3 separate regions of the Homo sapiens genome follow, and regions 2 and 3 are each linked to region 1. Evidence: fine-mapped expression QTL. A gene starts in region 1. Each other region holds a variant in brackets. All regions are shown on one strand. Distances are from middle to middle.

What was found. PIP is the estimated chance that this variant, and not a neighbour inherited with it, causes the effect.
Region 2: its variant is fine-mapped to the expression of MS4A7 in lung (TOPMed, PIP above 0.99).
Region 3: its variant is fine-mapped to the expression of MS4A7 in whole blood (TOPMed, PIP above 0.99).

The regions. Positions count from the first base shown.
Region 1 is chr11:60,373,035-60,383,333 of GRCh38, reverse strand. It overlaps MS4A7 (membrane spanning 4-domains A7), which reads right to left and starts at 4,802. Exons shown (of 7, transcript NM_021201.5): 1 at 4,670-4,802; 2 at 46-205. The coding sequence starts at 192. RefSeq lists enhancers at 4,801-4,850, 5,531-5,770.
Region 2 is chr11:60,201,160-60,211,458 of GRCh38, reverse strand. MS4A4E (membrane spanning 4-domains A4E) reads left to right here. Exons shown (of 9, transcript NM_001393391.1): 6 at 2,765-2,866; 7 at 5,639-5,745; 8 at 6,501-6,569; 9 at 9,580-10,299. The coding sequence ends at 9,916. It overlaps MIR6503 (microRNA 6503), which reads left to right and starts at 2,303; the gene lies at 2,303-2,388. RefSeq lists an enhancer at 9,490-10,299. The variant A/G (reference allele first, on the strand shown) is at 7,102.
Region 3 is chr11:60,425,400-60,435,698 of GRCh38, reverse strand. It overlaps MS4A5 (membrane spanning 4-domains A5), which reads right to left and starts at 6,127. Exons shown (of 5, transcript NM_023945.3): 1 at 5,872-6,127; 2 at 4,775-4,903; 3 at 3,232-3,288; 4 at 1,782-1,934. The coding sequence starts at 6,024. The variant G/A (reference allele first, on the strand shown) is at 5,407.

The sequences.
Region 1 (10,299 bases):
ACAAAGTATTTTCTCAGTATTCCCCTTATAATGAGGTGGACTTACCCCAAGAACGGTGGTTTCTGTTGGCAGCCCGTTCTGCAGGTAATCTTCGTTTTGGTACATGTGTCCAGGTTTCTCTCTTTGAGGGATAGTGATGCCCTTTGGTGTAAAGCTGTGAGAAACCCCCATGGTTTGGGATTGTAATAGCATGATGCTGATGATGCTGGAAGAGGCATCAAAACTCAGTTACTTCCCAAGGTTTGACTTACAGACATAAACTTCCCAGGGACCATACTTTGTAGGAACTTAAGAAGGTATTTGCCATTATTCCAAGGCTGGTTGTCCTTCAGAAACAAAACATGGGGATCAGTGGAGCATTGGAAAGTGGGCATGCTGGGCACAGTTCATCCATTGTGGTCAAGAAGCATGTCACTGGGAGAGTACTGTACACATTTTGAGGGGTCCCACAATTGAGAGGTGAGCAAATCACATAGAACTTGCTTTGTAGCCCTGAATGTGTCCATCTCCCTCTCCCTCCAGTGACCTCTGCTTCCAGCTTCCCTTCCCTATCTCCTGTATCTCTGCTTCACTTGTGCTACCTTCTCACACCACATCTTCCAGGATTACACTTTTATGCTACACCTGCACTGATCAGTCTTCTACTCCAGTCTTCATTTTGTCTTCGTAAAAATGTTGAGGATGAATGCTGTTCCACTTTCCTTTCCTATAGCGAGATGGCCTGTCCCATCCGGAATCTTCCTCCTTGCTTATATTGGCTTCGTAATTAGTAATGTAAACATTTACTTAACTCCTGCTGAATTCCAAGCATTAGACCATTGCAGCTCTAATCCTTATAACAACCCTGTAACTTACATGTTATTAAATCAATTTTATACATTAGAAACCTGGGGCTAATAAGCTCAAGTGACTTTTATTGAATGAAATAGTCACATAAAGTACTTAGCCTGGCACTTAGAATGTGTTCAATATATGGTAGCAAATATTAACAGCCTGTGTTTACATGACTGGATTGAGACTTGTCTGGCTCAGACGCTTGTGATATTTTTTTCTCTATGCCATGTTAATTCTCCTCCTCTTCCTCTTCCTTCCTTTCTTCCTTCCTAACATTTCCAGTTCCCTTGTAGATTCCAGGAGCAAGTTGTCTGCCACCACTAACTCAGCAGCATTGCTGGGCCTCTGTGGTGTCAGCAACAAGGCTCAGCACCTGAAATGTTGCCCAGATTTGTTTTCAGCTCAACATTCTCCCTACTGAAGGCCAGAGTTTAGTTAAAGGCTTGTCATCCTTGAAAGGTGCCACAGCTCTGCTGCCTGACATTTTGCCTCAATGTGTTGGTGCTTTAGGAATGGTTCTGGCCTCTCTTGGGTGGAGTGAAGAACATGTAAAAATTGGAAATGACACCTAGAATCTCTTCCTAGTGAGGGAGATGGAAAAGTGCACTGGGATGGGAGTCCAATGCCTAGGCATCTAGTTGCACATCTGACCATATGTCTTGGAGTCCAGTCGTGTGTTCAGATCCCATATCCACCAGTTACTGCTAAACTCACCCTGGGCAAGGTATTTTCACCACTTCATAGGTTTGTGGTACAGGTTGGATAAGATGACACATATAATGGACTCAGCATAGGGGGAGGCATGTGATAAACTCCCAAAACATATCAGTTTTATCTAATATTCATTGGAAGCCCAGTTCTGATATTGATGAGCTGGCCGTAGGCAGGATACTTTCCCTCATTCATCCCCAGTTTCCTTATCTGTAAAATAAGGATAATGACACTATCCTGAAGGACTCTTGTGAGGATTTGAATGACACACGTGAGTGTCTTTTGTTGTAACTCTCTGAGTTTTATCAGGTGTTCCATAATAGTCGATCCATGTTTGGACCTCCATTTTATTTCTACTCCTAGATCTGTGCCTTAGTCTAGTTTCTCATGCTCTCCGGGCATGAGATACTTTATCTGAAGAATTATTAAACCTAAAGTTCTCTTTGTTTAAGGAGATAGTTTTCATTTCTTGGAATTTTGAAATCTGGGTAGAAGTGTGGGTGAGGTTACATGTCCTATGAGGGGAATAATGTTGAAGCTGAATCCCTGCAGTGGAGTCAGGGTGAGCCTTCCAGCACATCTTTAAAGCCAGAGAAGGAGAAAAAGTGTCAGGCTTAGAGAAATTCTAGGTTCCAGAATCAAACAGTAGTTCATGATAAAATGATAATCATTGCTAACATTGATTGGGCACGTACTATGAATGTGGCATTCTATTAAGAGCTTTGTGACAGTCTCATTTAATCTGCAGTCTCAGAGATGGGTGCTGAACTTTGAAGATAAGAAAAATGAGGCTTGGAGAGGTGAAATAGCTTGTGCAAGATTGCTTATCTAGCAGGTAGTGGAGGCAAGATTTGGGCACAGGCCATCTAACACCAGAGCTCTTCTATATCCCTGTAGGTTTGTTCTTGCCCGGCTAGCTACAACTGATTCTCATCCTCTCTATTCTTCCTCCCCTATTGTTGAAGCATTGGCTGCCACTCATCAGTTCCATATCCTCTCCCAGGGACATTGCTGATCTTAGGGAATATAGGTTGAAGATTTCTTTTTCCCAACTTGCTTTCATGTTGTAGAAACTTGGCTTTTACCTTGCTCTGTGTGGCTCAATAGCCCAAATATACCAACTAGACTCCTTCCTACTAGTCTTCGTCACCAGCCTCCTGAGTTCTGGGTTCCTTTCTTTATTTTTCGAATCTCATACCTAAGGACTGCAGAAAATGCTTGATTCTCAGCCTGAAGCTAGGACTCGAAAGTTTAATTGATACTTTCAGGCTATAGCCTATCTGATACCATGAACATTTATTTTCCTTTGTTATTTCTTAACTGTTTGTTCTGTTTGAAAGAGTGCATAAAGTACCACCATTACAAGGGAATACAGTTTGAAGAAGAAAACAAATTAGCTCCTTAACTTTCAACTGCCACCCGATCACTCTTGTTTCCTATGCACATATTCTTTACATTCTCTCTTCCCATCTGTCACTTTATCTCTCTCCTCTTTATATATGTTCACAGACATTCACAATTCTACGGAAATAGTCATTCTATCCATGCCATTTTATAACTGTTCTTTTTGTACTCAACATTATTCTGTAGACATCTTTGACCGATGAATAGAAATAATAAAAAGCCTAAATTTAAAAGCAAATGATAGATTCTGATACATGGCACAACATGGATGAACCTTGAAGACAATATGGCAAGTGAAATAATCCAGTCACAAAAGGACAAATATTGTATGATTCTACTTATGTGAGGCACCTAGAAGAGTCAAATTCACTGAAAGTAGAATGGTGGTTGCCAGGGGCTGGCGGGAGAGGGGAATGGAAAGCTATTGTTTAATGGGCACGGAGTTCCAGTTTGGGAAGACAAGAAAGTTCTGGAGTTGGGTGGTGGTGATGGTTGCACAATGGTGTGAATGTGCTTAATGCCACTGAACTGTACACCTAAAAATGGTTAAGGCTGGGTGCAGCGGCTCATGCCTGTAATCCTAGCACTTTGGGAGGCCGAGGCGGGCAGATCACCTGAGGTCAGGAATTCAAGACCAGCGTGGCCAACATGGTGAAACCCCGTCTCTACTAAAAAAATACAAAAATTAGCCAGGCATGATGGTGAGTGCCTGTAATCCCAGCTACTCAGGAGGCTGAGATGGGAGAATCGCTTGAACCTGGAAGACAGTGGTTGCAGTAAGCCGAGATCACGCACTCTAGCCTGGGTGACTGAGCAAAACTCTTTCTCAATTAAAAAACAAACAAACAAACAAACAAAAAACAACAAAAAAACACATGGTTAAAAGGCTACAATTATTTTAAGCATATTTTACTACAACCAAAAAGCCAAATGGTATATTTAAATAAATGGAGGTCTCTAGATTCATTTAATCAATCACATGTTCATGACTATTTAGGTGGTTTCTATTTTTTCTTTTTGCCACTATGAACAATGCAATAATGAACATCTTTGCACTTTTGTGATACCTCCTGCATTTAATTATCTCACAGTGATGTATGGAAGTGGAATTATTACATTTAAATCTATGACACTTGAATTTAGATACACGTTGCTACTTTTAGAAGGAATCCTATATAACCAAGATTCTTTATGTTTCACAAAAGTCTCCAGACTGATGCTATCATCTCCAAACACCACAGTCTGAGAGGATGCTTTGTCCTTCCACATTCGCCTTGAGGAGATAGACTGGAGGGACCCACAGCTTTCAAGACAGCTCTAAAATCCGTGCTTTGAAGATAAATCATGACATGGAGGTCAACAGCTCTGCCCAGCAATTTTCTGTATTACAGAATTAGAGTAGGACCATGGGGTTCTAATGCAAGATTCAGTCTAATTGCACAGTATTTGTTGAGAGTAGACTCTGTAAGACTGAGTGACACACCAGGAGAATGCAGAACATTGAGGAAAATCACCTCAATGAGGGAAACCTAAGAATGGTTTTACCCAATTTTCTTATTTGACAAGTGAGTAAACTGAGACCCAAAAAGGGGACTGAGCTGACGCTCCAACTCACACAGGTGGTCAGAATCAGAGACAGGATGATAATCCAATTCCCTGGCTGTCTTTTCAAAAGCACACAATCTTCCCCAAAAGTCATGATCTAAACCAAGGTGTCTACCTGTTCTCGCAGCCTGGTCCTGTGTGCTGTGGCTGGGGATCAGCTCACCTCTGGGGAGCGCTCAGCTGGAACCTCCCACTGGCTGTTCCTGCCAGAACGATCTTGGTGCTCTGCTCTCCAGCCTCTGAGACTTCCTGTCCCTTTCTTAGAGCAGTATTTATGATTACACAGGATGTGAATTTTGCTGTAGTTACAGACAGTTGATATATAAAAAGTGCCTCTGCTTCCTCTTTCTAAATTCTGAGGTCTGGCAAAATGACACAAGATAGAAGTGACACATGAGAAAAAGACCTTTGTGCAGACTAGTGATTTGTACGGTCCCAGTTAAAATTCATTTTCCCTACTCCTACATAGAATTATTTAAGTCATCTAGTTTTGCTTAGCCTGAGTTTTCTTGTCTATTAAATAAATGGTGGATGGATAATAATAATTCCACTCTGTGGGTGTTGGGAGAATTAAAGAAAAAAGATGCAAAGAGTTTACAAAAAGTAGACAATAAATATTGATAATAGTAATGTTAGTTTTGAATTTTGGAGAATCTATTCTCTCACTTTCCAGGCTCTTGGTAAGCTGAAAGCAACCTGTGGAAAATTCCGTGTCTCCTTGTTACTTCTTTTGGGTGTTTCCATTCTCCATCTTTGGCCTCATGCTCAGGGAAGTCCAGGCACATCTTGGGAAAGATGCCAGTGGATTGGCCTCAGAGGCAGAGTCATCAGGCTCCACACAAGCTCATATTTGGGGAAGTATTTGTTGTTGAGGGGACACTGTTGCCACTTTCACATCCCTTTTAAGGCTTCTTGTAGACTAGCCATTGTTCAGAAGGGTAGGGTTTAAGATGGCTCTGGGACATGCAGCAGCTGGCGGCACAACATGCTCCATATACAGTCTCCATTTCCTGAAGGGTGGCAAGGCTATCCCCTAAGAGAGGAGCAAACCTAAGCCTGGGAGATTTAAATAACTCATAAACTACTTGGAGGGTATTTTAGTCCAGTTCTTCTCCAAATGAGGTGATATTGCTGAAGGAATCTGCCCCCAGTCACATGTCTAGTCTGTGGAAGAGGCAGGAATCTAATTCACATCTCTTGGCACTGAGGTCTGGGCTTGCTTCATGGCAAGAGTCTGCCATTTGGTCAACATCTTTTTTTTTTTTTGAGATGGAGTTTTTTGCTCTTGTTGCTCAGGCTGGAGTGCAATGGTGCAGTCTCAGCTCACTGTAACCTCCACCTCCCAGGTTCAAGTGATTCTCCTGCCTCAGCCTCCCCAGTAGCTGGGACTATGGGTGCCCACCACCATGCCTGTCTAATTTTTGTATTTTTACTAGAGACAGGATTTCACCATGTTGGTCAGGCTGGTCTCGAACTCCTGATCTCAGGTGATCCACCTGCCTTGGCCTCCCAAAGCTGGGATTACAGGTGTGAGCCACTGTGCCCAGCTTAGTCAACATCTTCATATCCACAACAAGCACTGTCTTTGCTTAAGAAAACTTCCAGGATCCAGACCTTCCTCTGGGTCTATGACCTGTTTTGACCAAATTGTTAAAGAACCTTGGTCATTTGGGCTTCTTTCACACTTCTGAGCCTCAGAAGGAATTCGTGAGAAAATCAGTTAAATATCCAGTTCACTTTCTCATAAAATTTGAAAAAAGATTTTTCAGAATTGTTGTGAGGATTAAGTCAAATAACATAAAAGTCCCCACCATAGAGCCTGACATAAATGAACCATTAAGAAAATCTGGTATTTCTTGTCCAACATCTTCTCCCACCCCCTTTAGAGAAAAGTGTATTTTATCTCTAGATTGATCTCTGATCTCTAAGTGTAATCTATGTTTACTCTAAATTCATGCTCTTTTCCATTGATGGAAATCTCCTCAGCCCTTTGCAAACAGTCCTGGTGCTCTAGACAGGCAAGTGACTCACAGTCCTAGTGCCTACTTCAAGGATACGATCTCCCCGCCATCCCCACCCCAAGCAGACCATGAAGCTAGTAAAATGGAAATGCGTCTTATATGTTGGAGGACTCTAACAGCCTTGGACAGACTAACTGTATTTTTTTTCTCTAGCAGTGGAGATGACGGGCTGGGGCTAGGGCACAAGGTCTGGTTATCCAGAGAGAGATTCCTTGGAGCAGTGTTCATAGACCCCCCTGATGTTTGACTTGGTTATTGGCTCCACTCACGGAATTTTCTCCCTGTTTCTTAGAATCTCGTATCACGCCACCGGAATGAAAGTGAAACGATTTTTCCCCCCAACTTCAGCATTTTACAGGTGGGGAAACTAAAGGCCAGGGATTGCTTAGGGAGTTAGTAGTGACTGGGCTGTGGCTGATTCATGCAGTTTCTATGTCTGTATTATTTCAGTGTTTTCTTTATGCCTTTGCAGTTCTTTAATACACAGGTAATGACTCTTTCTAGCAAGTATTCTCTGCTAAAATAACAGAAGGTTTCTGTCTTTTGGCTGATAACCTAAATTACAGAGAGGTTAAGTAACTTACCCTGTCACACACCCTAGAAAGTAATGAAGTCTAGATTTGAATCCAGGTAATCTTAATTCAGGGACTGTGCTCTGTGATCGTTTTTTTTTTTTTTTTTTTTGACGGAGTCTTGCTCTGTTACTCAGGCTGGGGTGCAGTGGCGGGATCTCTGCTCACTGCAAGCTCCGCCTCCCGGGGTCACGCCATCCTCCTGCCTCAGCCTCCCAAGTAGCCGGGACTACAGGCGCCCGCCACAACGCCTGTTTAATTTTTTATATTTTTAGTAGAGACGGGGTTTCACTGTGTTAGCCAGGATGGTCTCGACTCCTGACCTCGTGATCTGCTCGCCTCAGCCTCCCAAAGTGCTGGGATTACAGGCGTGAGCCACTGTGCCTGGCTGGGACTGTGCTCTTAACTGCTATATTATTACTTCCAGGAACTTGCTTTACTGGTCATCTGGACTTGAACAGTAAATCCCCAAACCTGGTGTGAGACCCTACCTTCCAAGTGAAATACAAACAAATGGTTATTTCCTGGTGCTCTTGATATCAGAATTGCTGGGACTCACCATTCAGTGATGATGAATAGGGCAAAAGAATGCAATTATCTCAAATGGGGATGAGGCTGAGCATCTCTAGCTTTGTATAACTGGAGGCTACACATGACAATGGGCATGATGGGATGACTAAGCATGGGGGAGTCTCTTTCTACACCATCCTCAGCAGCTCTGCCAGGTTTCTGCCTCTCTTGGTCTCTGCCTCTGCTGATCTCGCCATGCACACAGCAGGCCTCGCGTAGTACTTCACAGAAAATCTCCTTACTGAAAAGGTGTAGGGCACAACATTCCTTTAAAAAATTCCACATGAAAAATATTCCTCACTTTTCATTGAAATACCACAGTTTGAGTGCTTCTTCTGTGCCAGGCTGTGTTCTAGGTGCTTGGATTGCATCAATGGACAGAACAGAAAAAACCACCTTCCTCTATGGTGTTTTCATTCTCCTAGAATGTTCAAATAGAACAGTGAGGAAGCATACTACATAGTCCTAGTAATAAGCCTAGTAACAAGGTGAATAGACCAATGGAACAGAACTGATGTTAAGAATAGCATTTTACTCAGGATTAAGAAACTGACTCAAAACCACTCAACTACATGGAAACTGAACAACCTGCTCCTGAATGACTACTGCGTACATAAAGAAATGAAGGCAGAAATAAAGATGTTCTTTGAAACCAACGAGAACAAAGACACAACATACCAGAATCTCTGGGACACATTTAAAGCAGTGTGTAGAGGGAAATTTATAGCACTAAATACCCACAAGAGAAAGCAGGAAAGATCTAAAATTGACACCCTAACATCACAATTAAAAGAACTAGAGAAGCAAGAGCAAACACATTCAAAAGCTAGCAGAAGGCAAGAAATAACTAAGATCAGAGCAGAACTGAAGGAGATAGAGACACAAAAAACTCTTCAAAAAATTAATGAATCCAGGAGCTGGTTTTCTGAAAAGATCAACAAAATTGATAGACTGCTAGCAAGACTAATAAAGAAGAAAAGAGAGAAGAATCAAATAGAAGCAATAAAAAATGATAAAGGGAATATCACCACCAATCCCACAGAAATACAAACTACCATCAGAAAATACTATAAACACCTCTACACAAATAAACTAGAAAATCTAGAAGAAATGGATAAATTCCTGGACACATGCACCCTCCCAAGACTAAACCAGGAAGAAGTTGAATCCCTGAATAGACCAATAACAGGCTCTGAAATTGAGGCAATAATTAATAGCCTACCAACCAAATGGCTCTCATGGGGTGAATAAGCTTTAACATATTGAAACGAGGGGAGTTTTCCCTTATCCCCCTTGCAGGGTGCGTGATGGGGGTGTGGCTCACTTCTTTGGTGCCCCGCAGCTCAAACCCCTAAGGGAAGCATGCAGACGGGCAGGTCATGGGGAGCGTGGGCTCCGACTCCATGGCAGCATCTAGGGTTGAGTGTTTACAGCTCCCGAAGCCCAAATGGGTGTATGTTACAATGTGCTCTTTCAGCTTAGCCGTCCGCAGGCACCTTGCTTTAATGAGCTCAGTTAGACCCTCTACCTTATCGCAAGGACAGAGGGCTTTCTGTATCCCAGGGTTCTTGCCCAAGTGTCCCAGAAAAATCAGATCATATGTGGGCTTGGAGAGTGAGTGCAAGGTTTTATTGAGTGGTGATAGTAGTTATCAACAGATGGACAGGGAGCCAGAACGGGGATGGAGTGGGAAGGTGGTCTTCTCTGGAGTAGGGCTGCTCAGCAGCCTGGCTCTCCTCCAACCACCCTCAGCTGAATTTCCTTTGGTATCTGCTTTGTTCTGCCATCGATGGTCTGCCAGCAACTGTTGGTGTGTTCTTCTGCCAGTGTGTTCCTCTTGACATCCAGCCACTTGTGTGTGTATACCCACTAGGGTATCAGGGTTTTTATAGGCACAGGAGGAGGGGCATGGCTGGCTTGGAAATGCAACATTTGGCATGAAAACAGGAGTGCCTGTCCTCACCTGGGTTTGTGGGCAAAGGCCGAGGGTGGAACCTCGCCAGGGACCCTGCCCTTCTCTACTTAGCACTTCCCTGCCCCTCTCCCATATCAATATGTTGATGGAATTATTTAAAAAATTGTTCTCTAGGCTAGTGTGAGAATCCTGAAACTGTTCTGAATATCAGTCTGAAGATGCAAATGATAGACAGTTAATGCTTGTAAGGCCCATAGCTATGGAGATGTGGTTGACCCTAATCATGAATTTTGCACATTCATTCTCGAAAGCCCACCTGAGAATGGTGACAGTGGCACATAAGAGAAAAAAGGAGGAAAAGAACAATAAAAAGGGCAAAGACAAAGATACCTATTATGTATTTAGGGGCTCAGAAAACAATACCCCAAAACAATACCTCAGAAGCAAAAGTTTTTCTCTGACTTCCTTTCCTGTCTCTCAGTCCTATCTTCCTTTGAGGCTAGCTGTACAAACAAGAATCCCTCCCCAAGGTGGGTCATAGAAACCAGACACCCCTCTTGCCACAGCCAGCCTTAAAACCTAAAAGTGTTACTCTAACTCTCCTTCCACTCTATCTGTGTAAAACTGGTCATAAAGAAATCATCTGAGCTATCTTGTTTGACTGTAG
Region 2 (10,299 bases), 170 kb after region 1:
GAATCAACTGCATTCTGTTTACTTCATTTCTAGCTAATCCCACATAGTCTTGAGGGCTACGTAGTCACACCAAAATAACCGCTTGAGGTGTCTTTGCGAAACTAATTTACTTCCCTTGAGATATCTAATGCTTTTTATAGTAAGTAATTTTATTTCTTGCCACTCACTCAAGATAAGAAAAGAAAGTTTCTTTTGAGAATTTGACAAATTTTCCCAATGTCACTCAGTTAGAAATTGGCAAAAGCAAGATTCAATTGTAGAACTTCTTGTCTCTAATTTCCCTCTTATTTGCTATTGCTATCCCGAAGAAGAACCTTACTTTTAGTTTATGAGGCTCTCTTCATTCATAGACTTTAATGGCACAATGATAGAGACAAAATCTGGAATTGGCCAGGTTCATAGGGCTGATTTCGTGGGCATGGGACCTGTGCAGTTACTCAGGACCTCAGAGTTAGAAGAGCCCTGTGCTTGGTCTAATGCTCTGCTGTTGCTATCTTGAAATTATTTTTAAAAATTTTAAACAAGACACTCTGTAAATTACGTAGCTGGTTCTGCATTCATCTCAATCACCTTTCCCAGAGGTCATGATGAATTCCTATTAACTGTGTGAACATTTTTATGCCTGTTCTAATAGCAGAGGACTTCCATAAGAGCTTTCTGGAATTTGAAGCAATGAGTCTCTTCTTGCCTGGGCACCTTTACATTCAGTCCACAGGTCTATGAGCCCATAGTGTATGCCCCATCACAGGGTTGGCACCCTGGTAGACATAAGAAAGAGAACAGTTCCCTACCACAAAGGAACTTTGGTTCTCCTGGAAGAAAAAGATAGAAATGCTGGAAAGCATATAATTATTAAAGAGGCCAGAAAAAGTTGAGCTCTAGAAAAAAGTAGTTAGAGTCTACCACCCGGAATCATTAGGCAGAACCATATGAAATTGCCAATGATCAACTATACTTAACCTAGAAAGACAGCAGTTTCGTATAGCTCAAGCTAAGATATATATGTAATTTTAATAAGAGAGTCTATAAATTACATAGCTGGTCCTGCATTCATTTCAGTCACCTTTCCCAGAGTCCATGATGAATTCCTGTTAATTGTGTAAACATTTTTATGCCTGTTTTTATAGCAGGGGACCTCCATAAGGGCTTCCTGGGATTTGAAGCAATGGGTCTATTCTTGCCTGGGCACCTGCACAATCAGTCCACAGGTCTATATACATGCTATGTTTTTGGAAGTCCAGCCCTGTATTTGTTTTTGTAAATAAAGTTTTATTGAAATGTAACGAACCCATTTATTTACATATTGTGTATTGCTGCTTTTGTGTTATAATAACAGGTTTGAATGTGTGTGCCAGAGACCTTACGGTCTGCAAAACCTAAAATGTACATTATCTGGCCTTTACGGAAAGCTTGCCATCTTCTAGTCTACACTTCTAGATGGTAAAATCCTTGAAGACAGGGGAATTGTCTGTTTTGTTTGCTGTTCTATATTCTGTGCCTACAACAATGTTTGAAACACAGAGGCCGCTACAGCTGTTGAAGGCACAAGAAAATAAAAAAGCAATGAATGCAAATATTCTCAAGGTCTCCTTAAGTCTGCCTCACTCATATCCTGAGCTCTTGGTCTATTGGCTCTTCCGCAACAGAGGGACTATCCCTAACCATGGAGAGAAAAAGAGAGAATATTTAAACCAGATAATCCCTGCATCAGTCCGGGGTAAAATTAATAGAAATAAGTGTACTGCCCAATTGTTCTCCAAATTTTGACTATGTTTCTTGGCTGAAGACTAGCCCTAAAGCCAGTGCTCTGGGGAGATGGATTAAAGACTGACCTACGTGATGTTCATTGTTGTATTAGCTTCTTATTGTTACTGTAACAAATTACTACAAATCATTAGGCAGAACCATATAAAATCATTTAGTGTCTCAAGACAATACAGTTTGGTTATCTTCTGTTTCTGGAGGTCAGAAGTTCAAAGTGGGTCTCACTGGGCTAAAATCAGTGTGGGCAAGGCCGTACTCCTTTCTGAAGGCTTAGGCAACAATAAGTTTTACTGCCTTTTCTGGCTTCTGTAGGCTGCCTACCTTTCTTGGTTTGTCATCCCATCCTCTACCTTCAAATCAAGCAATGCAGCATCTTCAAAACTCTCTTGAACTCTATTCTGCCTCTTGCTTCCACTTATAAGGATTCTGTCATTACTTTGAACCCACCTGAATAATCCAGGAAAATTCTCTCATTCCAGCTAATAAGCAACCTTGATTTCAGCTGCAAATTTAATCCTTTTTGTTGTGCAAAAAGAACAATGGTCCCCCCAGGGAGGTCTGCATTCAAATCCCCAGAAGCTGAGGATTAGGGGACTAGGATGCAGACCTCCCTGGGGGACCATTACTCTGCTTACAATCACGAAGATATGGAATCATAGTATTTTTTCAATGATATGAGTTTCTAGTACTCAATAGGATATGATGACAATTATCTTTATACTACCTTCCTAACATTTTAAAGCACTTTCATCTTCCATGCCCACAATAGCACTGGGAGGTGCTGAACTAGGGAATAAATGTCTGTGATTATTTTATTAGTGAAAAAAGTGAGAAGCTACTTCAGCAGATCAAGAATTGGTCAAGGGTATGGCTGCCATTGGGAGGCAGGTTTCCTGACTCCCAGCCAGTGCTTTTTCTCTTATGACACTGTGGTTGCTGGGAAATGTTTTCACTTGTCATCTCCATTTCTCACATTCCCTTGTTATGAGTTTTCTCCTAGGGTACGGATGGCATGGTGCTCCTCTTAAGTGTGCTGGAATTCTGCATTGCTGTGGCCCTCTCTGCCTTTGGATGTAAAGTGCTTTGTTGTAGCCCCAGTGAGGTCAGTATTGGCCTTCATTTGAAGGTATCTGTATTACTTTTGTATTGCTGTATAATCAGTTAAACAAACTTATAGTCTTAACACAGTACACATTCATTATATTTCAGTTTCCATGGATCAAGAGTCTGGGCCCAGTGGATGTGGGTCCTTGGTTCAGGATCTTATGACTCTGTCATCAGGGAGTTGGCCGGGGCTGTGGCCTTGTCTAAAGCTTCTGATTCTCTTTCATGTGAATGTGGCGGAATTAATTTCCTTTAAGTTGAGGACTCATGACAATGTACTTTTTCTTTGAGACCAGCAGGAGAGCCAGAGTCTCTAGTGCTTTAATCCTCTCATAAAGCATTCACATGAAGAGGTGAGGTCCATCCAGAATAATGAGTTTTTTTATAAACTGAAAGTCAACAAATCAGTCCTACATACGGGACTTGTATCCCATCTTATACACAGGTTTCATCCACACTTGAGAGAAGGGAATCACAAGGGGTCAGTGAGTGTCACCTTAGAACTCTGCCTAGCACAAGAGCTAAATAAAAGCTCTTTTTCCCCTTCCTTTCTCAAAGGGCATAACCTCTGAATCCAGATAAGAAAATATTTCACAATGAAGAGGTCCCCAAAAGTACTTGGTTTTATTCTATTATCCTATTACAACAACTTTTCCTGGAATACGGAAGGAATGTCATGATCTCAGACTTCTCTATCAGTCTGTGCCCACCTGCCCACTCTCTTACCCTGAGACCTGCAGCAGATGCTCCTGGCAGTTAAGCCAAAAGAAAGTTACACAGAGAGAGGAAAGTGAGGAATGGAAGGAGAGAAGAAATCAAGAAAGAGGCTCTAAGAATAATGGGGTGGGATATCCTCCTAGAATTGAGGGTTCCAGAATGAGGAAATGGATAGTAAAACCCCAACAGCTACTCATTAGCTTCATTACCCAAAGTCTGAAAGGCAGACAAAACCGTCAGCCAAAGAATAAAGTAATTGTAGTTTGAGGAGATTGTTTCTCTGGTGCCCTTCTCCATCATTTTGTGCCTCTCTGTCTTCTTTAGGGATTCCCAGGCAATACCATATCCCACTCCCCGACAACCCTCCCTCATAGAAGAGAGATTGACTATAGCGCATTAACTCTAGTGGTGGGGTTTTGCATTGTAAAACCCTAGAGGTGAGAGATTCTCAGCAATTACCAATGATTTTGTAATTTCATCAAGTGAAGTAACTTTCATGTCATGATATTTAAGTCTGTGTTCCCTTTGGCTCTTTGCATAGAAGCTGGGGAATGTTGTTTCCCTAATCCCCTGGTTTGAGTCCAGAAAAGCAGTGGCTTTGGGGCATATCTTGGCTAAATCTCTATCTCTTCCTGGTCCCCCACCGTGCCCTACCAATCGAATGTTGCACTGAGTTTGTGGAAGAATAACCAGAACTTTTCTTAGTTTTGTGATGATCCCTGCTATTCCAGGCCAGTGTGGTTTTTGCAATGCTTTATTTGTAACCAGCAAATCATGATTTGGGTATGTTGATGTCATCAGCATGAACAACCTGGTTTGGAAGAAGAGCCCCATATTTTTCATGATACCTTGGTTTACCCATCATATTGTGCACTGTCATCCACATGTAAGATTGATCCTCTTGCGAGACCAGGGCAGTGGTCATCAGCAGCTCAGGTCAAGAGCTATCACTGAATGTTGTGTCCTAAATCTAGCCTGATCTAAAGAATGACTGAGAATCCCCACATGACTGATATTGAGAATGAATCAGAGAAGAAAAGAGTAAACTCTGATAATGATGACTTTATGTGGGCAGGAAAGGGGCACTCTGAGGTGATTTGGGTGACTCACCTATGGCATTCTGATTGTTTGTGCTAATTACACCATCAAATTCTCACATGGCAGAAATAGCATCTCCCACACCACTTAAGACAGTTTGATGCCACCAAAAGATTAACAGAAGAATGCTCCAGAAATCTATGCTGACTGTAACACAAGAACCCCACATGAGAAAGTACCAGAATCCAACTCCAATACTGATAGACATATTGATATCATTATTATATGGAATCCAATTATGACCTCTGTGTGTGTGTGTGTGTATATATATATACGTATATATATACATATATATATATATGTGTGTGTGTGTATATATTCAAAATTTTGTTCTCATTTTTTCCCCTGGAACTCAACAACTAATTTCATTGGCCCTTTATCGAGAGTACTAGAAGTTAAATTAATAAATAATGCATTTAATGAGGCAGCAGCACTTGAAAGGTTTTCATTCATCATTAGGACTTTATATAAAGGCATTAAACTGGCAAATAAGATTTGGAAGCAGAAGGGCAAAAAGGTATTGCTAAAACGAGGTCTCCATGCAAAACACATACTTCTGCTCCCCTGTATAACATTCCTCTCACTTACTTGACTTTTTTTCTGCCATATTTGGGGACCAAAGTGCTTTTTCCTTCATGAAGTGGAGATTCATGCCCTTCTCCCCCATCCTTTTCCTTCTGCTTTCCTTCACCCATAGAAAGTACCTTGGAATAGTATAGTCAGTCCTTGCATGTGCACAAGCTATCATTTCAGTAAAGGTATACATGGAGTAAAAATCATATGAAGGATCAGATTCAACTTATATTTTCTATTTTTTCTTCTTCCTCTCCCTTCCCCCACCTTCTGCTGGGCAGAATTATATCTTAATCAAATGTGTATCCTGTGTCACATATGGAAATGTGCAACATATGGTATTTGTTAATGTTTGTTAATTACATTTGCTTTTTTATTGCAGAGCAAAAATAAAATTAGAAGCAATACTTTCATGTGCTACCTCCTTTCTATTCAGATGCAATATGATGGAAAGAGACTAAATGTTGATGTCGACAGTACTGTATGGTGGTAAATAATGTGGACTTTCTAATCAGACAACCCTGGGTTTTCATCTTGCTATCCCATCTTTGTTGTTTACTACCTATGTAGCTATGAACATGCCACAAAATTTATCTGTGCTTCATATTTCTCTTCAGCAAAATAGTAATAATATTGTCTGGCCCATAGACCTATGATAATTTCTTGGTATAATAAAGATAGAGCAATTAGTACTCTGGTACATATGGAGCCTCAAAAGCTTTAATTAATACATATACATATGTACATATATACATATTATTTATATTTGTCAGTTCATCATTTTATTCAGCATATATTTGTAAAGTATCTACAATGGGGCAGACATTGTTTTAAGCATATAAGAAAATAGCGGTGAATAAGAGAGATAATATCCTTCCTCTTGTAGGTTAAACTTTTATGGGACAGGACACAGATTAACATAAAACAATCAAAACATTTTTATATGCTGTTAGAAGCTAACTGTAAGAATTAATGTGCTGGAGAGTGGTTGTTGGTAGTGGTTGTGAAATATGAGTCATTAGAGAGTAACCAGGAAAGTTCTTTTTGAGGAAGCGATATTTTCATTATGATAAGATAAAAAGTATTGAATTTGCATGGACATTCATATTTTCCAACTCAGTATATAGGATTTCTCATTCTGCCCTACACTCACGTATCTATTGTATCCACCTTTCTCCATGCACGCTTTTCATGGGAATGTGAGGCCCTCCTTCTTTCAATGCTAACCTGTCTACTTTCTCCAGCTCCGGAGATGGACAGTATCTGGAAAAAGTCTATTATGACATTCTATCTTCTTGGTTGAGGATTGAAAGGTAATCTAGCAAGAACCACCAAATAGAACCTTAATACTGTTGCTTACTATTATGTAGTATATAGAACCTTAATACTATTGCATAGATGTTCTATGTCTCTTATGGGACATCAGTGAGAATACATGTAGCCTACTTTATTACTGGCATACGTGTGTGTCTGTAAAGGAAGTATGTTTAAAAGAAAGTCAAATAAGCAGAAATAGCAATAAATGGAAATGAAATGAATGCTTGATTTCATGGATGAGCATCTGTCTGTCACAGGGTTCATATAGTAGCATGATGGCTGCTGATTGCAGCAAACTTACCTCTTCACAGCTTCAAGCCCAACAGGAAAGAGGAAAGAGAGGGAGATCATTTCTTAGACAGTGAAGTGAAAATGATGAGAGTAATTTGATTGGAAATGTGTCAGTCATTCACACAATTAATTTTTCCTAGGTCACAAAGCTACCACAGAACTTCACTCTAGTTGAGTTGATGTAATTTGCTCACAGACGAGCAGAACTGAGAAGCGCCAAGTGAAGGATCAGACCCT[A/G]GCAAAATCCTTTGCATCTCCAAGTCAAAGTTTACCTCAAGTTGGGCCAATCCCTGACGTTTTAAATATATAAAGGCAAGGGAAGATGATTAACTGCTATAACTGGGCAAAATCCTTCAATGGCTTCCTCTCTAACTCATAATAAAAGCCAGAACTCATACTAAATCCTAGAAGTCCTTACATCTCCTGATTCTTTGTTCTGTCTTGGATTTTGTAAAATATCCTAACTTATATCCTGATATATTGCCTTGAGATTATTTTAAGTGGCCTGAGAATGCCTTCTGTTGGTTTAAATTAGCGCATACATAAACTTTTTAAGGTTAACACTTACATAAGCAACCTAAGATTAGTACATTTTTAGTTGTAAAAAGCTAATGCAAATATTTTAGGCAATTCATGCAAAATATTATGATTTCAACTTGTAGAGAAGGCTGCCTCATTTATTTCATATCATGCAATTTTAAATTTATTCTTTATTTGGTTATTCTAGGTTCTATCTATAAGTGATTAGGATGTAAAGCAGTAGGAAAACGTCCATGAAAACTTTGCCTTCTTTTGCTACATTTACAAGAAAAATAGTTATTCTTTTTATTTATTTATCTAATTTTTGAGACAGGGTCTGGCTCTGTCACCCAGGCTGGATTGCAGGGGTATGATCTTGGCTCAATGCAACCTCCACCTCCTTGGCTTAAGCCATCCTCGCACCTCAGCCTCCCAAGTAGCTGGGCTTACAGGCATACACCACCACACCTGGCTTATTTTTGTATTTTTTGTAGAGACAAGGTTTCGCCATGTTGCTCAGGATGGTGTTGAACTCATGAGCTCAGGCGATCCACCCACTTTGGCCTCCCAAAGTGCTGGGAGTACAGGTTTGAGCCACTGCACCTGGCCAAGATAATTATTCTTTACATACATGATTAAATTCCCCACAACTTACTAGCTGTGGGTAGCTTATCATTGTGTTTCTTCAGTTTCCTCATCTATAAAAATTACAATAGTACCTACCTTATAGGCTCTTACAAAGACTACAGGTATTATTAAAACTTGTAATCACAGAATGAAGATTGACACTGGTAGGCGATATGAAAAGAATGGTGAGTGATACTGATAGGTGACATATAAAGAATTATTAAACAATATAAAAGCAAATAACAAAGTAAAAATAAAATAATAAAATAAGCTAAAGATTAACATAAGTCTTAATTTGAGCACATAAGCAGTTATTATACTTTTAAATATTCAGGAAAAGAAACAGATAAGTGTGTCCACAGAATTCTGATTTTTAAATAACTGTACTAAGTATAAGAGTAATGTCCATATGGGACACAAAGAAGCTGCACTACCCTGAAAATCGGTAATTTTCATTAACTTCAGTGAAGTTTTAGAAGTGGGAATTTATAATATTACTGTTTCAAATTTAATACCAGAATAATCTAAGATTCTCTAAAAATGGAGTCATCTTCCCTCAAACCTATTTTCCAGTCATTGTGAGTTAGGTAAAATGAGATTCCAACTGTAGTACAGTTTTCCACTGTCAATAGTAATACGCAATTGGGATAAAGTAGTGGATCTTTTTCTCTAAGAGAGGAGTATTTAACTTCTACAGATGTCATATTGAGAATGACATGGCAGAACAGGCACCTGGAGTCAGGTGGAAAGGATGATCCTCCTACAAGTAATCAGCTGGGCATGCATATGATATAAATCAATTTTGTGTTTAGGAAAAACTCAGTGTGGGTCACTTAGTGGCTTTGATGTATATTTGGAAACTAGGACTGTTTTCGGTTTGGGTAATAGCTCTCAGTTGGCTATCTGAGAGGATTTTTAGGACAGAAGAAACATAGTAGGGAACAAGAAAAAGACTATAATCTAAGCCAATGTAGTGTAACACAGGTGCATGCATTCAGATAATTTTAGAATGCTACTGACCAGATTGAATGGCAAGCTCCCATACATTCTATATACAAAAACATCAGAAAGTTATTTAAAAATGTGTACTCTGTCATTAATCTTCATTGTAAACACATTCATAGCACCAAAGGATAGGTTTGTTGTGGAAATATAGCAACAATTTGCCAACAGCACACACCATAAATCTTCTTCAAATCTTCAAGAGATAGGTCCTCACCTACACCAATTCCTTTCCTTTAGATCATCTCAACTTGTATTAATAAGACGTAGAGGCAATTTGATTCTCTGTCTGCTTAGTGATTGCAAGTGGCTGCTCTGCTGGGTTGAAGTTAGGCCAAGAATTGCCTTTGTATTGGCTGGTATGTACATGTCTGAGAGCAAGGGCTCTGGCAATTAGTGACAGTGGTTAACCATCAATTTGCTCTGTGAATAATAAGGATAAAAACAAGTCATAAGGTCTTGAGTATATAAGGTGATATTACTGATAACTTCTAACTATAAGTAGTCCAACCTATTCAGGTAGAGTCAGTATACTTGGGACTAAAAATGATTTATTTTTTAAAAAAGTATTTATCGAGTGCTCAATGGTGCCCAGGCTGGAGTGCAGTGGCGTGATCTCGGCTCCCTACAACCTCCACCTCCCAGCCGCCTGCCTTGGCCTCCCAAAGTGCCGAGAGTGCAGCCTCTGCCCGGCCGCCACCCCGTCTGGGAAGTGAGGAGCGTCTCTGCCTGGCCGCCTATCGTCTGGGACGTGAGGAGCCCCTCTGCCTGGCTGCCCAGTCTGGAAAGTGAGGAGCGTCTCTGCCCGGCTGCCATCCCATCTAGGAAGTGGGGAGCGCCTCTTCCCGGCCACCATCCCATCTGGGAGGTGAGGAGTGTCTCCGCCCGGCCGCCCATCTTCTGAGATGTGGGGAGCGCCTTTGCCCCACCGCCCTGTCTGGGATGTGAGGAGCACCTCTGCCCGGCCGCGACCCCGTCTGGGAGGTGAGGAGCGTCTCTGCCCAGCCGCCCCATCTGAGAAGGGAGGAGACCCTCCGCCTGGCAACCGCCCCGTCTGAGAAGTGAGGAGCCCCTCCGCCCGGCAGCCACCCCGTCTGGGAAGTGAGGAGCGTCTCCGCCAGGCAGCCACCCCGTCCGGGAGGGAGGTGGGGGTCAGCCCCCGCCAGGCCAGCTGCCCCATCCGGGAGGGAGGTGGGGGGGGTCAGCCCCCCGCCCGGCCAGCCGCCCCGTCCGGGAGGTGAGGGGCGCCTCTGCCCAGCCGCCCCTACTGGGAAGTGAGGAGCCCCT
Region 3 (10,299 bases), 52 kb before region 1:
GGAGTGACCCGATTTTCTAGGTGCCGTCCGTCACCCCTTTCTTTGACTCAGAAAGGGAACTCCCTGACCCCTTGCGCTTCCCAAGTGAGGCAATGCCTCGCCCTGCTTCGGCTCGCGCAGGGTGCACGCACCCACTGACCTGCGCCCACTGTCTGGCACTCCCTAGTGAGATGAACCGGGTACCTCAGATGGAAATGCAGAAATCACCCGTCTTCTGCGTCTCTCACGCTGGGAGCTGTAGACCGGAGCTGTTCCTATTTGGCCATCTTGGCTCCTCCCCCCTCATTTATTTCTTAAAACATGATAAATATTGTGGTTTTAAAATCTCTTCTAATATACTTAGTATCAGAAATTTACAGGTGATTTTTTTTTTGCTATGTTCTGTTTCTATTAGTTGTTATTCGCATTGTCTTATTTCTTTTTAGGCCTCTTTTGAGTGCTTACTGTTAATTTTCAATGGAAAATTTGATGGGAATTTATTAAGATTAATGAATGTTTTTCTCCTAGATAGACTTCGGTTTTGCTTCTGCCAGGTACCAGGGGCACCACATACCAAGACCAAATTCAGGTAAAACATTCTTGCCTTATCCAGTTTATGCCTAGCAAAGGTCAGTGGGGATTGGGGCGTGCAAGGAGGTTGTCAAGGGGTTTGTTTGGCTTGTGGCCACACTTCTCAAATACTTTTCCTTTTTAAACTTTGTTCAGCGACTTTGCTATTTTGGGGCAGGGTACGTTGTATATCTTTTTGCCCTTACCTGAAGAGCGTAGTAGCCTATCAAAGACCTAGTTTAATACGGAGAAAATCTCTCTTAAGTCTTTATACTTTGAGTGGATGTGAAACCTTGACTTCTTTCTCTTTCAGTCCACATGGGCCAGGGATTGGATTCCAAATAAGCATCACTGGCAAATGGGTCTGAAGGCATAAGTAGCTTTCATGCTCTTCAGAGTTCCACTTGTAAATTTCAGGTTGCAGGCTTTCATCTAAAAATTGATCTAGTAGTTCCAGCTGACCTTTCAGCTTTTTAATGTCTTTAAGGTTGTTTTGTTTTTTAATAAAAAGACTTCTGTTTTCAGAGAAGAGTTAATCCACATAGCCATACTTAACCATTACCAAAATCAGTCTCCCTATTTTCTGCTCTTTAGTCCTGCTTTCTGTGGACCTGGTGCATTCAAATATTAAGTATTTCTTAGGCTCTGCTGTAAGAAATATCTTCTAATATGACTTCCCCCTGCTTTGCCTTAGATGGTGGGTTTTCAATTTCCTCAGCAATTTTTGTGTGTGTTTGGTAACTCTCTTTTTCTCTCCATGTGGATCAAACCTTTTACATTCTTTTACACTAATCTTAGTGGTATTTTGAAGGCAGCTAAAATAAATGCCCCTTTTCAATCTTATCATGCTTTATCGGAAGTTCAGCCTGTTAAAACCAAATCAAGAACTGTAAAAACACACCACTGTGATTCTAATGTACATATAGGGCTATAAACTACAGCCATACTGCTGTACCTTTTTTTTTTAGATTTATATTTGTATCATACTGATTTGTGTATGTTTTATCTCTTGTGCTCCTGTGAATTCCTAAAGGTGGGAGTTATAATGTGTTTATTTTTCTCTTCCACAATGCCTGGTGTAATGTCTATCAAATATTATGGATTTCATAAATGTTTGTCAGTAAAAGAAAATACATGTGTCCACAACATGATCTGAATGGTGCTGATTGAGTGCTAATAAATATTTTCTATTAAGCCCTTTACTCATCACTCTATAAATGCAACATACTTACCAAGAACAGGACAGTAACAGCCTTACACTGACTATTTTGGTGAGAATAACCACAAATGTAGTTTTGATCTAGGATGAAACCAAATGTGAGGAGAATGATTCCAGCTATTGCTCCCAGGGCACTAAGAAAATTCATTATTCGGCTCAATATTATCTGAAATAGAATAAGAACATAACAATGTGACTGAGGTCCAGCCTGTACTACAAACAAAGCAATGAGTGCGGAGAATGGAGAGCAGGATTTTAGTCACAGCATCTTAATGCCACGAGGCAGCTCTGTGATCCTGTGCGAATTGCTTCACATCTTTGGGCTTCAGGCCTTCATCTACACAATAAGGGGATCTTGTGAACTTTTAGTAACCTTTCCATTCCCCATATTCTATGCCTAAGTTAACTCTTATTCAGTTGGGAGGAAGGGTGTGCCTGTAACAATTGCATTTTGATTTTCTGGTGAAAGTCATGGTCTGTTTACATTTTTATTTTAAGACTCCTAAGTTTAACTGAATGCTGCACTTCTCTGCCATTTTTAATTTCTCCCTAAAATGACAAACTAAGGATTTTCAGTCCTTTGCTAAAATCTTTTGTTGGCATAGTAATATCTTATGTCTTCAATTCTTTGAGTAAAGTAAAAATATTCTACTTATAATTTATCTATAACTTTACATTCAGTAGCACTGTATTCTTTATTTTGAGATTCTGTTTATGGTTTAATTAGATTGTCTACAGTTTGCCTTTCGTATGAGTCAAAGTAGTGCCTGTCAAAGTGCCTGGTATGCCGTAAATACCCAGAAAACAAAAAAGAATGAATAAGTAACTGGAATGTTGAAATAATTCTACCATTAATTGGCTGGGAATTTGGACAAGCTATTTAACGATTGTAAGCCTCAGTGTCTTCATACATAAAATAAGAGCTAAACTAGATGACCTAGAGAAACTTTCTCCTCTAGCATAATGGGTTATAATTCTAGGAAAACAGGAAGCAAATGCTGTTTATTGGTATTAATACTTGATAGTTTGTGGAATTATGGTGACCTAATGATTTTACAAATTTTTTTCAAGGCCAGGATAAATTATTTGAAAGTTATATATTTTTAATAAAGTGGAAATAGTGAAAATGTAACTCATTACTTTTTTTTGTTTTTTTTTTTTGAGATGGAGTCTTTTCCGTTGCCCAGGCACGATCTCGGCTCCTTGCAACCTCCACCTCCCAGGTACAAGCAATTCTCCTGCCTCAGCCTCCTGAGTAGCTGGGACTACAGGTGTGTGCCACCACACCTGGCTAATTTTGTATTTTTAGTAGAGATGGGGTTTCACCATGTTGGCCAGGCTGGTCTTGAACTCCTGACCTCATGATCCACCCGTCTTGGCCTCCCAAAGTGCTGGGATTACAGGTATGAGCCACCATGACTGGCTACAAAATATATTTTTAATAAAGTAAGAATATAACTCACCAGAGTTTCTGTGGTTTTTCTTTTCACTGCAATTAGGAAGGCTCCAGAATTAATGAACTGTTAAGAGGAATAAATATGTTAATGATGACCATGTTTAGCTGATGTTGAGTTCTTACAGAATAGACCTCTATGCATTTCTTTTACAGGCCCGCCTTCTAAGTTCACACACTCCTCAGGGCAGTGAGAAGGGTGAGTTGCTTTATATGACTTTCCACAAATGGAATAGTGGACAAAACACTGGTCTGGAAATCTCCTTTAGCCCTAACTATTTATTTGAACATGAACATTTTTTTTAACCGTACAGGGCTTTGGTTTACTCATCCATGTTCTTTTTATAGCTATTGTGGACTCAGCTTTGATCTCATGACAAAGGGATTTCAAGTCAGTTTATAATCATTAAGATTGGATTCCATCTTACTGCAATCCAGTGTGTTCTCTTGGATGGGAACATAAGGTGGGGTTGCAGTGAATGTGCTGGTAGTTCTTAAAATCTCCAAGATTTTTCTTGGAAGTGGGTCACACGTGGTAGCATTGTTGTCTAGTGGAAATTTCAAATCTGATTACAGCACTTCCATGTTTAAATTTCCAGCCCCTTCATGGGTATTTTCCAGCCTCATCTCTCCATCCTCACTCCCTGTGCTGAACTCTTATAGTTCACATAATAGAAAATGCTCTCCCATACCTTCAGCCTGTGCTCATATTTCTCCCTTGGCATGCAACAAGACATCCCTAATCCTTACACTTGGGTATCCCAACTCCCATCTTCTGTGTGTGTGTCCTCACCTGATTAACCATTCACCCTTTAAAACTTGGTCAAGCTGGAAATGTCTCTGGGCGTTGTCCCCTCTGTTTTGTTGATGCCTTTCCTATGGAGGCAGCCCCTGTGTTTATTCTCCCTCATCACACCCTGTGTTAATTGTCTGACTCCTCACTCAACTGAGACCTTGAGCTCAGGCACTGCTTTCTTTTCCCTGAAGCCATTGCTCTGCCCATTCTCTGGCACTAAATTAGGTCCTAAGTTAATGTTTATTGATTGTGACTACACTGGGTTTAATAAATACCTCTCCGCAGCTCAAAAGGTATATCTGAGAAACCCTTCCCACTTCACTTCTGTAAAGAATAAATTGCTCCTTCATCTCTGCTTACATAAGCATTTCCTGCACCTCTGTGATAACATTTATCACACTGACTTGAAGTGACCTGTTTACATGTTTTCTTGCTAGACTGAGAGGTCTTTGGGGGAGAGGCCCATTGCCTTTCTCTGTGTATCTGGCTTATAATAAATAGTAACTAATTTCAAATGAATGAATAGCCAAATAAACAACTGCAAGCCTCAAAAGAAGTATTCCCAAAGGAACTTCAAGACCTAATGATGGAATATCAGTGACTGTGATGAACTAATGGGGAAATAATTTCAACAAGGTTAGTTTTTTGCACTTTTGAAAGCATGTCATACAACTGGATCTAGCTTATTTCATTGTGAAGAATTCCCTAACATCCTGGTTGGCATGGCTTCAAATTGAACTTGATTGACTATACTCACCAAAACAGAGCCCCAGAATGGATATCCTGAAAGAAATATAAAGGGAAACCTTGGATATGGTTTTAACAAGGTGAAAAGGAAGATAACTCCAAAAGAAAAGGTCATAATTCCAAACAGGATCTGGATAGTCTGCAAATAGAGGAAAAAGTCATGGTGAGGAAAAGCAAAGTGATAGTTTCCCTTCTGTTTAGAATATCTTCTTTTGGTCAAAAGGATTTGGCAATTACTCTCTTTGGTAATTAGGGGAAGAATAATAGAAGTCCCTTTATGATGCTCCTGGGTACTTTCTTAATTCCTCTATCTGGTATTTGGTGATAGGTAAAATGATCTAAATCAGTGCTCCTGAAAATGTGGTCCATGGATTGGCAACATCAGGATCACTTGGGAGCTAGAAATGCGAACTATCAGGCCCTATCCCATACTTACTGAACGGTCTCCAGGTGAGGCTGGGAAACCTGTGTCTTCATAAGTTCTTCAGTTCTTTAGCCCATAAATGTGAATGTCTGAGAAACACTGAATTCTAAATGAGTATACCAGGCTGGCCTCAAGCAGAATTGGACTGTGAGGAGCCCTGCCTGGAGATGGCCAATTCTCTGAGCCTCTTGAGGTATTGTCACACTCTCAGGCCCAGA[G/A]GACTCTCCATCTCTTCGGGTTTTTTTTTTTTTTCTCTCCCTCTCTGAGCCACTCATGTGATGCACTGTGACACCAAGCAGTGGTTTGACAAGTGCTGGGAAAGACTAATGAGGACAATATACAAAAATGGAAGGTATACAATATACAAAAACGTGTGAGTCTATGTGCTCTGCTCTCTTCTTCTCAGTCCACCTTCTCAGTCTGAGTAATCTCATTTACTGCCATAGCAACTATCACTTTTTAAGTAGGTGAGTCCTAAATGATAGCATTTTTTGTCAAGTCCAGACCCACATGATTCGTTCTTCTCAAACATCCTCTCTCAAATGGCCCACCAACACTCTATATTCACATTGTCTTAAAGAAGAATTGGAATAGGCTCCTACCTTCAAACATGTGCCAACAGATAATTTCCCTAGCCTTTCCCCTGCCTCAGTAAAATATACATAGGGGCAAGTCTTACTTACCCCTAAGATTTTCATTTTTCTAGCAAATAATTTTTGCAAGGGGCTTTGAGTTGAAAAGGTCGTGGCTGAAAGTTCTGTGGACTCATATTCTGAAGCAGTGATTTCTGGAGGAAATACCAGAAACACCGGACTGTGTGCGGTGCTTGAATCCATGATGGTGTCGGTGATAATTTGAAAGGAGATGATTTAGTTGGTACTTCAGTCTAGACCATGTTCTTTTCTTGTGCTGAGGCTGCCTGGAGCACTGGAATTGTTTGCTTTGTCTTGGAATTATAGAACCATAGAGTCACAGAGTCATAGAATCTCAGGACTGCTCAAGATCCCAAGATGGCTATAAGTAAAATGCCTGGGACTGGGGATCAGAGAACCTGACAAGTAGTCCTGGTTTAGTTAGGAGTTTACTGTGACTTTTGGCAAGTCACATCCCCCTCTCCTGGTTTCTGATTCCTCATATATACATTGACCAAATTGGACTAGATGATCTACATATAAAGACATTTTAGGGACCGCGCATGGTGGCTCGCGCCTGTAATCCCAGCACTTTGGGAGGCTGAGGCGGGCGGATCACCTGAGGTCAGGAGTTAGAGACCAGCCTGGCCAACATGGTGAAACCCCATCTCTACTAAAAATATAAAAAATTAGCCGGGTGTGGTGGCACGTGCCTGTAGTCCCAGCTACTCGGGAGGCTGAGGCATGAGAATCACTTGAACCCAGGAGCCGGAGGTTTCCTTGAGCTGAAATTGCACCACTGCACTCCAGCCTGGGCAACAGAGCAAGACTCTGTCTCAAAAAAAAGGACATTTTAGTTACCAAATGGCAACTAGATACACATTTATTCCAGTTCCATATCTTCAGACACAGGTAGAACGCAAAATCTCTCAGGCCACGGAACAAATTAACCACTTCTTGAAGTATAGATAACATCCATTTTTCCTGTCACTTTGTGGTTTTGCCACCTGATTTAAGTAGCTTTAGCTGTGTAACAAATCCCTCAAAATGTAGTTAGTTCCAGCAACCACCATCGGCTTTTGTTTACACATCTGTGGGTCCTGTGTGTGGTCTGTCTCATCTAAGGCTGCTCAGCACTTCTCTACCAGGCTGTCTCATGCAACTGTGGTCACCTGGTGGAGTGTCCAATTACATGAATTAGGATGGCCTCAGTCATGTCTCTGGCAGTTGGCAGACTCTTGGTTCTCTTCCAATTCACAAATACTTTTCAAACCTCTGCTGAGTCATGTGTGTTAATGTCATATTGGCCAATCAAATTTCATAGACAACCCAGATTCGAGGGGTAAGAAAATAGGCCCCCTAATGTCTTCATGGGAGGATCTGTACTTTCATCTTGAAAGGACAAGAAAGAAAGGGAAGGGAACAATTTGTGTCTGTTTTTAACTGTACCTTGTCATTTTCTGGTGTTTCCTATTGAGATCAGGTCTTCCTTAATTGAACCTCATGATGTGACAGCCTCTAGCCACTTACCAGTTGCCAGTTAGAATATTTTAAAAGGCCACCCCTCCCTCACAATTTCTTTTCTCTGAACGTATCCATCTCTTGTTCAGTTTTCTATGGACGTTGAATCATAATGGTGATTATCCTTCATGAACATCATCTGATGTTGTGTTAGCATTCCCTAAGTTAAGCACACTATGTTGCAACATACTTTTATAAAACACCATTTCACCCTAATTACTCAGGTTTTAACTTTGCTCTATACCTTCCCCAGTTTTTGTTTTTTCTCCCTCTAAGCATGATGACTAGCACAGTGTTATAATAGCTATCTGACAAATGGCAGAAATATAACTTTAATTTTTTATTGTTCTTTGTTTTTTATTATTCTTTAATTCATGCAATCTGGTGATGCAGTGGAAGACTTACTCTTTGGAGAAGAGAAACCTAGAATGAACCCCAAGCCCTTTTATTTACTATTTATGGGGTCTAGGCTAAGTTATCTATTAATTTACATATTTATTAAAATATTACATTTCCTTTATGAGAATAAAAATTGTTATACAGTTATTGTGAGTAAATTTTAAAGTACCTGGAGTGTAGTAGATGCTAAGTAAATTGTAGTAGTAATAAAAATAAGAGTAATAAGTATTATTTCTCTTATTATTGCCATTTTTAGCATGGTGAGCAGATACTTTGTCTTGCTTTATGTTTGCACTCTTTCCAAAGTTCATTTTTTGTTGATTCTTTATAGGTTAAATGTGTTTCTATGAGCTTAGCTATAATACTGGAAATGTCACACTGAATCAGTGCAGACATTATTTTATTTTATTTTTTGAGATGGAGTCTTGCTCTGTTGCCCAGGCTGGAGTGCAGTGGTGCGATCTCGGCTCACTGAAAGTTCTGCCTCCTGGGTTTGCGCCATTCCCCTGCCTCAGCCTCCTGAGTAGCTGGGATTACAGGTGCCCGCCACCATGCCTGGCTAATTTTTTTGTATTTTTAGTAGAGACAGGGTTTCACCGTGTTAGCCAGATTGGTCTCGATCTCCTGACCTTGTGATCTGCCTGCCTCAGCCTCCCAAAGTGCTGGGATTACAGGCATGAGCCACCGTGCCCGGCCCCAGTACAGACGTTATTTTACAATTTCTCCATTTCAGGGTGGCTGTGGAACTCCATGGCCTCCTGCTAATAAATGCCCTAGGCCCCTTTATACATTGATGACATGTATCTGTTCACTACTTCAAAAATTTTCCATATCCTCATATTTCTTCTTATTTTCCAATCTGCCAAAACCTACTCTTTTAATGCAAATTACTCTAGTCTTAATGTGGTTTATGGAATAATATATAATATGTTTGTATTCATTAATGTTCTGAAATTCAGCCTTAATTTCAAGCTTCTTATTGCTAAGTATTCCAGAGAAGTTATGATGATCTGAGGAATCCAAGTTCTCTGAACCATAGTCAATGGGATTAGGCCTTTCCTCACAGCCTCTCGTCTGATTCCCTTGCTGGAAAGTTCCAAGAAAAACACTGTATTCTTTCTATCGTTCTTCTCTTACTGCAGCTGAAAGTCAATTTTCTTTGTTTTTAAGTTTCTCTTATTTTTCTCTGTTGTTAAAGCCCTCCTTTAAAAAGATCCATATCCATACTTTGGAGAGAACAACTCTGGGAGCAGAATTAGAGCAGTCAACTGTTGTGGCCAGATGTCACCCGCTTAGGAGTCCCTAAATCCTCTAGTTTTCTTTTGTTTTTAAAGTTTATAAATAATAATAGTGTCTTTAAATCTTATTCCATGAATAATGGTAAAACCCAGTGTCACTCTTAATGTCTCCAGACATTTCTTGGAAGGAGCAAGCGAATACGAGGGAAGGGGAACCACTGGGGCTTCTATCGTGTGGAGTGGTCTCAAGCTCTGATTTTCTGCATCTATTGAATTCTTAGTTTTCTCTGCATGTCTGGGCTTCTGTAAGTGATGACTGTTTTTCTCACTGCACTGTCCTGCTGGTTTTCATTCTGATTCTTCACTCCTCTAAGGTAGTAGTAGCACAGTCTTGCATATATAGCATACTTTAAAAATAAGATTAGAAGACCATTCTACAGAACCTACAAAGGCAGCAACAGGGATTTCCTACTGTATCTTCCGACATAAACACTCTAATTACTAATTTCGGACTTACACATAGGTATTAGATATTCCCTTTGTGACTACCTAGGAATTTTATGTTTAAAGAACAAAAAGTTTCTTTGTTTCATTGTGGTCAGATGGGATTTTTATGCCTTCACTCCCTTTCCCAATTTGCAAGAAGAAAAGGTGTATATTATTCTGCTTAGGGTGCTATGGTAAATTACCATGACTGCTTCATTTAAACAGCACAAATTTATTTCTCATACTTTTGGAGGCTGCGAATTCCAAGATCAAAGTGTCAGCTAACTTGGTTCCTTATGAGAGCTCTCTTCTTGGCTTGCAGATGACTGTATTATTTCTGTCCTCACATCATCTTTCCTTTGTGTGTACACAGGCATGTGAGCACACACACAAGGACACACACACAGAAAAAGAGCAGGAGACAGAGGCCTGGTGTCTTTTCATATAAGGACACTAATCCCGTCATGAGGGATTCACTCTCATATCCTCATCTAAACCCAACAGCTTCAAAAGCCCGTCTCCAGATATCACACTGTGAGCTAGAACTTCAACAAATGAATTTAGAGTGGGATGCAGTTCACTCAATAGCAGGGAGATAATTTGTATAATTCAGAATAAAGAGAGATACTTTGGTGGCATAAATTAGATCAAGTTTATGCCATAAGAAGTAATACCGACTAGTAAAAGAATTAGCTTTATAGATGTTTTATTATGGAACAAAATTGAGCATCTACTCCGTGACAGATATTTTAAACACTATACATTCTTTAATTATCCAATCTTCTTGACAACCCTGTGCTGAGTACTACTCAACTTAGGCACGGAAATTTTAAGA